2 separate regions of the Homo sapiens genome follow, and region 1 is linked to region 2. The links come from fine-mapping of genetic effects on gene expression. A gene starts in region 2. The other region holds a variant in brackets. All regions are shown on one strand. Distances are from middle to middle. Region 1 holds the start of LOC105378498 (a long non-coding RNA gene). Region 2 holds the start of HSPA12A (heat shock protein family A (Hsp70) member 12A).

Region 1 (4,378 bases), 31 kb after region 2:
TCCTGTGCACTGTTCCCATAAGCCCCTCCCCAGGTGCTCGGGACAGCCCTCTGCTCTTGGAAACAAGGGGCCCAGCCTCCCCTCACCAACCTCAACTTTCTGTGAATTTGCTTTAAACATGGAAGCCTCAAATGCCTGAAAGCCTTTTCTAAGGATGCCTTCGGGTCACTTAACAAGCCTCTCTTGGGGGAGATTTTTACTTTTAAAAGGAAGAATGACTTCTTTTGGCTGCTGCGGGCTGTGTGTGCTGGGGGAGGGGGCAGTGGACTGCAGGGTTGGAGTGGGGCTGTGGGCTGTGTGTGCTGGGGGAGGGGGCAGTGGACTGCAGGGTTGGGGTGGGGCATTCTCAAGTGTGCTCAAGGGGCCTCAGTTTGCAAACCCTGGACTGTGGCTCCCGAGTCTGTAGATGGAGACAGAGGTGGGCGCAGGCTCAGAGCAACCCAGAGATGCCCCAAGTCCACGGTTCAAAGGCCCTGCCCATTTTGCCTCCAACATAGGGCCTGACTGGGCTGCCCCAGTGACACGCTCTGAAGAGGCACATTCACAGGCGAGATAAAACAAGGACACTCGCTGGGAGCTGGGGCCATCAGCAGCCGCTGGCTGTGGAGGCCACACAGAGGGGAGGGGAGGACAGGGGCCCTGACGAGATACTGGGGCCAGAGGCCAAAACTGAAAACCTAGGGGTGAGCCCACCAGCAAAGCCAGTGACAGGCCTGGGTGAAGGGTCACCCTCCTCCGGGAGCTGAAATGGGAACTGAGGAAGGAAGAGAAGCCACTGGAATATTTTAAGCAACGAAAGAGGCCAGGGCAGAGCCTGGGTCTGAATCATTTCCAGGGCCTAGACAGAGGGCCCCCGGGAGGATGTTTCCGGAATGAATACATCCAAAAGGATGGGACGGCAATTGCGAAATTCCATCATGGGAAATCCCTGCCTGCCAGCATGTTTACCAGGAGCCCAGGGACGGGGTGGATGAGAGGCAGTCCCTGCAGTTTCTCTCTGCAGTGGATGGAGGTTTCTCTCCCAAACAAGGGGCGCTTGCTTGTCAACCTACAAGGGGCCCAGATAGAAAGGCAGAAAAGGGGACAATGGTGAGAGTGCACCCCCAAGGTGCCTTGGGTTCCAGAAGCATGGAGTTGGGAGAACTGCTGGGGGCGGTGGGGAGGTGGCATCCTCTGGGGCCTATATTGATGCCAACTCCAGTCCAGGCAGGCTGCTCCAGCAGCTGTGCTGTCTCAGCCACGGCCACACCTGAACAGTCCCCACCGTATTTCCCATCTCCACATTTCCAGGTGAGCTACACTCAATAAGCTTAACATGGGAGAGGGCAGAGGCAGGACGAGGCTGGATGCCAGGCCATTCCCTGAGATGACAGCACAGGACGGGAGCGGGGGTAGTGGCGAGGATGATGGTGTTCCCGCCTTGGGACACTAAATGACCTGGGTGTCTCTGGGACATGCAAGTGGAGATGTCCAGATAAGGCTGGATCACGTGGGTTCAGGGATCATCAGTGCTGGGGCAGGGGGTACTGTGAAGCCATTGAGTGGAGGAGCTGATCTTGGATCCTGTGTACAGGTGAAGAGAGGAGATCCCAGGACAGACCCCCAGAGCCCCAGAGCCCCAACACTTGGCAGAAGAAGAGGATCTCAGACTCTACCCCACTTGCTCCTGGGACCAGCAGGGCTGGCTCTGCTGGCAGAAAATGCTGAGCAGACTCTGTGGAGCTGCATGCCAGGCCCAAACTCAGAGCTCTGTCTCCAGGAAGATGCTTTCAGGGAATATTTGTAACAGCCCTTTTGCAGATGCTGAAACTGAGACCCAGAGAAGTTAAATCACAACTTGAAGGCACGAGAGCAAATGAGGCCCGAAGCTGTCTGGCTCCAAAGTTCCAAGTTTTATCCCTGGGCCCTATCTCTGCTCTAGGAAAGCCTGTGGTTCTTCTTTTTCTTTTCCTTTCTATCTTTATTTTATTTATTTGTTTATTTATTTATTTATTTATTTGGAGACAGGGTCTCCCTCTCTATTGCCTAGGCTGGAGTGCAGTGGTGTGATCACGGCTCACTGCAGCCTCAACCTCCTGGGCTCAAGCGATCCTCCCAACTTAGGCTCCTAAGTAGCTGGGACTGCAGGCACACACCACCACATCTGGCT[G/A]ATTATTATTATTATTATTATTTGTAAAGACAGAGTCTCACTATGCTGCCTAGGCTGGTCTTGAACTCCTAGTCTCAAGCAATTCTCCCACCTTGGCCTCCCAAAGTGCTGGTATTAACAGGCATGAGCCACTGCACCTGGCCACCTGTGGTTCTTCTGAGAAGGGGCTCATTCAGTCAGGACCGGGGACCCTAGCTAGACTAAAAGTCTGGGTGAGCCAGGGGACTTCCAAACAACTGCAGCCCCAGCTGCTCCCGTTGACTCCCCCTGGGCCCTCCTTCCTCCCACTCCTTTTCCTCTGCACAGCAGGCAAGGTCCCAGGGAGGCAAGAGCAGGCCCAGGTGGGCCCAGGCATTTCCCCAGCCCCTCCAGAGGCCCAGGATGAACTGGCCTGGGATGAGGCCCTGCTAATGAGCAAAGGCTTCAGTCCACTGAGCAGTACATGGTAGCACAGAAGAAGGCCTGGTACACCAACAGCAAATTGCATTTCCTTCTCAGAACCCTCAGCTCTGGTCTGGTACCCCCAGGCAACAACAGCCTAGCGGGCAGACAGGACAGGAGGCCTGGGAGCTGTGCGTCACTCAAAGCCAGACTGGAGAGTGACAATTGCCTTCGCAGCTCCCAGCGGGTTTCGAGAAGGTAACATGACCAGGGAGCAGTTCTGCCTCCCTTCTGTCACCTCTGAACCTCACCTTGGCCCATGGCCCCTCAACCTTGACTGATGCTAAGTAAGCAGTCTCCTCCTCCTTATTCCCTGGCCAACCTGCCCAGCTCACAGTGGGGGCCTCAGCCAAGGGTTGTCAACTGCAGCCTGAGAAAGTCTTTCTCACTGACTTGCCCCAAGAAGGGATTCCACTCAGCTGACAATTATGAAGCTCTGGCTGGTCCCTGGTCCTGGGCAGGGGCAAAGCTGCAAAACAGCCCACAGGGAGCTCACAGTGCCTGTGGTAATGATGATGACGATGATGGTGATGATGCTGACAATGGTCATTATCATGGTGACGGGGTGGAGGACTTGGAGCCAGGAGACCTAATTACAAATGATAACTATGCCACCATTCAGCTGAATGACCTTGGGTAGGTTACTTACCCTCTTTGGTCTTGAGTGGCATTCACTATGACATGGGGTGGGGGAACCTGCTCTGTGGCAAGGGCTTTTTTTTTTTTTGAGACGGAGTCTCGCTCTGTCCCCCAGGCTGGAGTGCAGTGGCGGGATCTCTGCTCACTGCAAGCTCCGCCTCCCGGGTTCACGCCATTCTCCTGCCTCAGCCTCCCAAGTAGCTGGGACTACAGGCGCCCGCCACTACGCCCGGCTAATTTTTTGTATTTTTAGTAGAGACGGGGTTTCACCGTTTTAGCCGGGATGGTCTCGATCTCCTGACCTCGTGATCCGCCCGCCTCGGCCTCCCAAAGTGCTGGGATTACAGGCGTGAGCCACCGCGCCCGGCCGGCAAGGGCTTTTTTGAAATATTTGCCATAGAGCACTCTGCGAGGGTCCCAGGTGATACTGCACCAATGCCTAGTTCAGTCCCTGACCAGTGTGGTCCCTGACCAGCAGCATTAACAACTCTTGGGCACTTAATAGAAATGCAAATTCTCAGGCCCCAAGGCAGATCTACTGACCCAGAGACTCTGGGTAGGGCCCAGCAACTGCACATCTCACACTCTTGCCAAAGTGTGAGAACCCCTGGAATAAAGAAATGTCAATGGTGCTCTTGGGTCTCTTCACAGACGTGGCTCTGCTAGAGGACTGGCCTTTTGGAGCAGGAGTTCATGGCCCAGATCCATCTCTTAGGAGAAAGGATTGGAGAGTGGGACATTGAGAGGGAGGCCTTCTGTGCACCCCTTCATTCACCCACCAGAAAACCCAGGTCCACCATTGAATAAGCTCCTCCCCCAGTCCCATGCCTGCCCACGTGGCCCTGGCCTGACTCCACCCTGACCCTGCAGGCTGCACAAGCCTGGAGCCCTCCACCCTGGCCCCTGCAGGCCCCAGTCCTGCCGGCTCCTGCACCAGCCCCTCGTGTTGGCTATACTGCCATGGCATAGGTCCAGCTGGCATCCTGTCACTCCACTCCCTCCCCAAGGGCCCCAGGTCGACTGCTACACACCCACCGCCACTGCTCCCAACTGTGCTGCTTTGGGGGACTCCAGCATTCCTTTGCTCCCTCCCGCCCATCCTGTGGCTGTCTCTGCTGAGTCACTCTTTATTAGTGTCCTCCCAGACAC
Region 2 (4,378 bases):
TGGCACCCATCCTTTTGTACCAAAAACATTCTGGAAATCCTTCCCAGGAAGCACAACCATTTTTTTATGTCCTTAATAGAGTGGTAACCACTGCACACATGCATAAGGGCTGTATGCACAGGTTGGTGCCCTGGAATCAGATGGCCTGGGTCCCAAACAACACTTCCCAGATGTGTGACCTTGGATAGGTCACTCAACCTGTGTTTGGATTTCCCACCCAGGAAGGGGAGAATGCTGGTAACAGGTTTGTTGTGAGCCTTTAAAACAATAAAATAATGCACGCTCTTTTCCCAGCAATGAGGAAACCTTAGAAATAAGTGTAGGGGCCAGGGGCAAGCCAACTCTGCTCCTATGCAATACTATTCACATCCTCCATTTTACAGATAAAGGGAGAGGTGCCCAGAGGCACAGTGAGCTGCCAGGGACAGCCCGCTCTTCAGGTTGGTCTCTGTCCTAAGTCCATGCACCTGGAATTCTCACTGGCCACCTTGAGCTGGAGATGACTGGAAGTGAAGAAACAAATACTCCAGAACAAACGCAGAAGAGCGGTGGCAGGTGGCTCGGCACACCAGGTATGGGTGTCCCCATCCTGGACAGGATTTCTCCCAGCACCGTGTGTGTGTGTGTGTGTGTGTGTGTGTGTGTGTGTGTCTGTGTGTGTGTGTGTGTGTGCGTGTGTGTGTGTGTTAGGATAGGGGTGCTGAATTTGATTTACAAGACAAAACAGTGTTGGGAAAGGTGTGGGGAGTGGGTACACATTCCTGCCCACTTCTGATTTGACAAATCCTATGCCCAACCTTGTATTTGGTATCATCGCCCACCCTATCCCAGCATGAGAGGCAAGAAACTGGCTCAGTAATTCTCAGGCTTTAGCAATTCAACGCCCCTACTTATCGTCCTAAAAATTTTTTTATTTTCTGACTTAAAGGAAAAAAGTAAAAAAAAAAAAAAAAAAAAAAAAAAGAGTCAATCCAGTTGCTGAGTGATGTTCAGACAAAGACAGCTGCCAGTCCATTGCCTGCGTTCACCAGCTGAGGAAGAGTACAGGCGGGGACTGGGTGTGTGTTTGGGGACGGCCTGGGCTCTCCGCTGCCTCTCCCTGGAGTGAGCCCTGTCAGGATCCCCCACCCGCCACCCTGCACTCCCCCACCACTGCAGTGCCGCGTGGGGAGGCACCTCCCTGATCCGCAGGAACAATGGGCTGGGGTGGGGGCAGGTGCGGCTTGGAGTGCAGCAGAGGGTGGGGGCCGCAGGCCCGACAGCAAGACAGGGAACCCAGCGCAGATGGTGGCTGTGCTGCCACTGGACTCAGTTTCTCCAGCTTTTGGGGCCCCGCAGAGCCAAGCGCTCGTTTCGTGGCTGAATCTCCCTTGCGTCCCGGCATTTTAATATCATCCTCGCAGGCGGCTTGCCTGTCGCTCCCGGGAAAGATGCCTGGGCCGCGCTCCTCTCCCCGGCGGCCGCTCTCGCCGAGGCCCTGCAGGTCAGGGACGCGCGGCGCCTCCATGCGCCCAACTTTCCCCACTTGGGACCCACAGGAAGACTGGAATCCTGGCCAGCCGGGCCCTCCGTGGGAGAAGCCTTGATTTACAGCCCTGGGCTCCGAAACCTGCTCGTCCTCTTCCCGCAACCCCCTTCCCCGTCCTCTCCGGCTCCCCCACCCTTCGGAGCCCTAATCACGCTCCCCAAAGAAAGCGGCCCTAGCACATCTGCAAAATGCGAGCGTCTGTCCTCCGCACTGGGTGCCTCCCCCTGCCCCCCGCAAGGAAGGGACCATCGAACCCCCGCCGCTTCACCCTTCCCCAGCCCAGTGAGTCCCTGGGGATGGGCGGGGAGGTGGGTGAGAAGCCCTTCGGCCGCAGCTGCAGCCCCCACTCCTGGCTCGAGCGTCCGGCCGGGGTGGGATGGGGCGAGGGAACAGGTCCAAATCTCCGATTTCCCCCAGGCTCCCACTCCTGCCTCGCTGAGTCACGAAAATTACCCGCTGGGGCCACCCGGCCACCCGGCGGCGGGCCCTTTACCCAGCCAGCGCCGGCCTCCGCAGCCCATCGCGCGGGGGCTGCACACGCGGGGCGGTCCTCACCCGCACGCGCGACCAGCCCCGCAGGAGGCGCCACCCGAGGCAGGGACCAACCAGGCGCCTCAGCGGGGGCTGCAGTCCCCGCCGCGGAGTCCGCACCCTGGCGGGGCGCAGAACATGTGACCCGCGGGCCGTCTCCGGTCCACCGGACCCCGGCCCCCGGCCCCGCTGCTGCTGACCCCGGCCCCGCCCGCCAGAACTGGATGCAGCGCGGGCGTCCCCACTTTTCCACGGCGCGCGAGGGGGTGCGGAGCGTTGGGCCAAGCGCGCCTCCTCCCTCCCTGCCCCGCCAGCCGCGGCCGCAGGACCCGCAGCCTGCGCTCACCTCGGGGCCCGTCGCTGCCGCCGGCCTCCTTGTCCGCCATGGTCGCGCAGCCCCGGACCGCGAGGGGAGCCTCCAGCGCAGCGCCCGTGCCCGTGCGGGTCTCTGTCCGCGTCCGCGGCGGCGCTCGGGCCGTGTCTGAGCCGCCGGGCAGCGGGAGCGCTGCTCTGACGCGGCAGCCGCCGCAGCCACGGCTCCTCCCCGGGCCCCGCCCCGGCCCGCCCGGCGCCCCGCCCCTCCGAGCTCGGGCCGGCCGGGAAAGGTCGGGGAAGGCGGGCGCGGGGAACTGCCTGGCTCCGGAGCTGCGCTCCCCGCCCGCCCAGAGCGGCCCGCCGAGGCCCGGCCTCTCCTCTCCCGGCTTCGGGACCGAGCGGTCGCCCCGCAGTCGACCGCGGCGGGGGTAGTGGCGCGCCCGGGGCTGCGCTGCGGGAGCGGATTTCAGGCCCTCGGGGCCCCGCGGCGCGTCCCCTCTTTGGAAGTCACCGAATGGCCAGGCCTGGAGCCCTTCAGCAAGCCCAGCGCGCCCGGCGCTCTCCCGAGGACGCCCGCGCCAGTCCCCACCAGCTTCTGTCTGTCCCCCAGGGTCCCAGGGGAGCGGCCCTGGGCCGGCGCAAAGGCGGGCTGGGTGGACCCCGGCGCGGGCAGGACCCAGGCCGCAGACCAAGGACCTGCGCGGGGGCCGAGCCCGGGGCACCGCCTCCAGGCCGCCTGCGGGACTCCATGGCAACTCCGGACCCAGGGAGGTGCTTGCCCCGGAGGCTGAGTCGCGCCTTCCATATATGGGATCCAGCTGGGCCCTCCTTAGAAGTCTGAGAATAACGATATTAATAATGCAAGGCTTCAGTTGTGAATGATTCATACTCCCTGTCCCCAGCTCCTCCACACACACGCGCCGCTGGCACCTGTTTGGGCCTGGCCAGGCACCCCCTGGGTCCGCGGTGTCACCACCCTGCCTTGGCAAACGAGGGCAGTAATAGGAATCCGAGGAGCACCGTCACTGGGTCGTTTCCGGGTGCCTGGCACTGTGCTACCTGCCTGGTGCTTTACCTCTATCTCCTTTCCTCCCCATAACTAACATTTTGCAGATAAGGAAGCTGAGGATCGGCAGGGTTACAATATCACACCCAGCAGGTGAGTCGCGGAGCTGGGATTCCCACCCAGCTGTAACCACCAGCATCCCTCACTTCCAGAGATGGGTGGCATTTCCCAAAGATCACCTAGGGGAGGCTTCATCGTACAATCCCGTTCTGGATGACGGAGTGGGCAGAGAGCTGCTGCGAGAGCGTTATGGATGACGGAATGGGCAGAGAGCTGCTGCGAGAGCCTGGAGACCAGAAGGTGATGGCAGAGTGACAAGTTCAAAACACAAAACTTGTCTTCTGTCTGCCTGCATTAAAAATCCCAAATGGACAGTTCCTGGCTGTGCATGAAACCACAGTCAAGTTATTTAACCTATCTGAGCCTCAATATTCTCATCTGCGAAATGGGTATAACAGGAGAACCCACTTCATAAAACTGAAGATTAGATAGACTATGCATGTAACATGCTTAGCTTGGGATCTAGCACATGGTAAAAATCATTAAGTCACTGATGGCCCCCGAGGGCCCTTCCTGCCTACGTGCCTGCGACAGCCTGCCCACAGCTCCCCCGCCCTCCTGTCTCACCCCTTCAGTCCATGCTTTGTGATCTGGTCTGTCCCCACCCTACTCCAGCTCCAGCTACAGCCGCTCTGATTCTTCAATCCCTCTCACCCACCCCTGCTTCTCTTATGCTGGTATTTCAAAGACATGAAAATGTGCTTGATGCCTGGATCACCCGTCCTCTCATTTCACCACCACCAGCAACCTAAGAACTTCTCCTTCTCATCATGGACTGCCCAACTCCAGGAAGGCTCCCCTGCATACCCATGCTGGCCAGGGGGGCCCTCCTCAGTGTCCTCAAGGCACTCGTTCCTCCCCATCAGACCAGGGCATCA

The links. PIP is the estimated chance that this variant, and not a neighbour inherited with it, causes the effect.
Region 1: its variant is the best candidate, but not a certain one, in a credible set for the expression of HSPA12A in gastroesophageal junction (GTEx, PIP 0.79).

The regions. Positions count from the first base shown.
Region 1 is chr10:116,770,711-116,775,088 of GRCh38, forward strand. LOC105378498 (a long non-coding RNA gene) reads right to left here and starts at 3,290. Exons shown (of 3, transcript XR_946339.2): 1 at 2,842-3,290; 2 at 1,656-1,809. It also overlaps a transcript of HSPA12A not described here. RefSeq lists an enhancer at 4,166-4,378. The variant G/A (reference allele first, on the strand shown) is at 2,150.
Region 2 is chr10:116,740,025-116,744,402 of GRCh38, forward strand. It overlaps HSPA12A (heat shock protein family A (Hsp70) member 12A), which reads right to left and starts at 2,542. Exons shown (of 12, transcript NM_025015.3): 1 at 2,406-2,542. The coding sequence starts at 2,445. RefSeq lists enhancers at 2,407-3,111, 3,112-3,815 and a silencer at 2,407-2,856.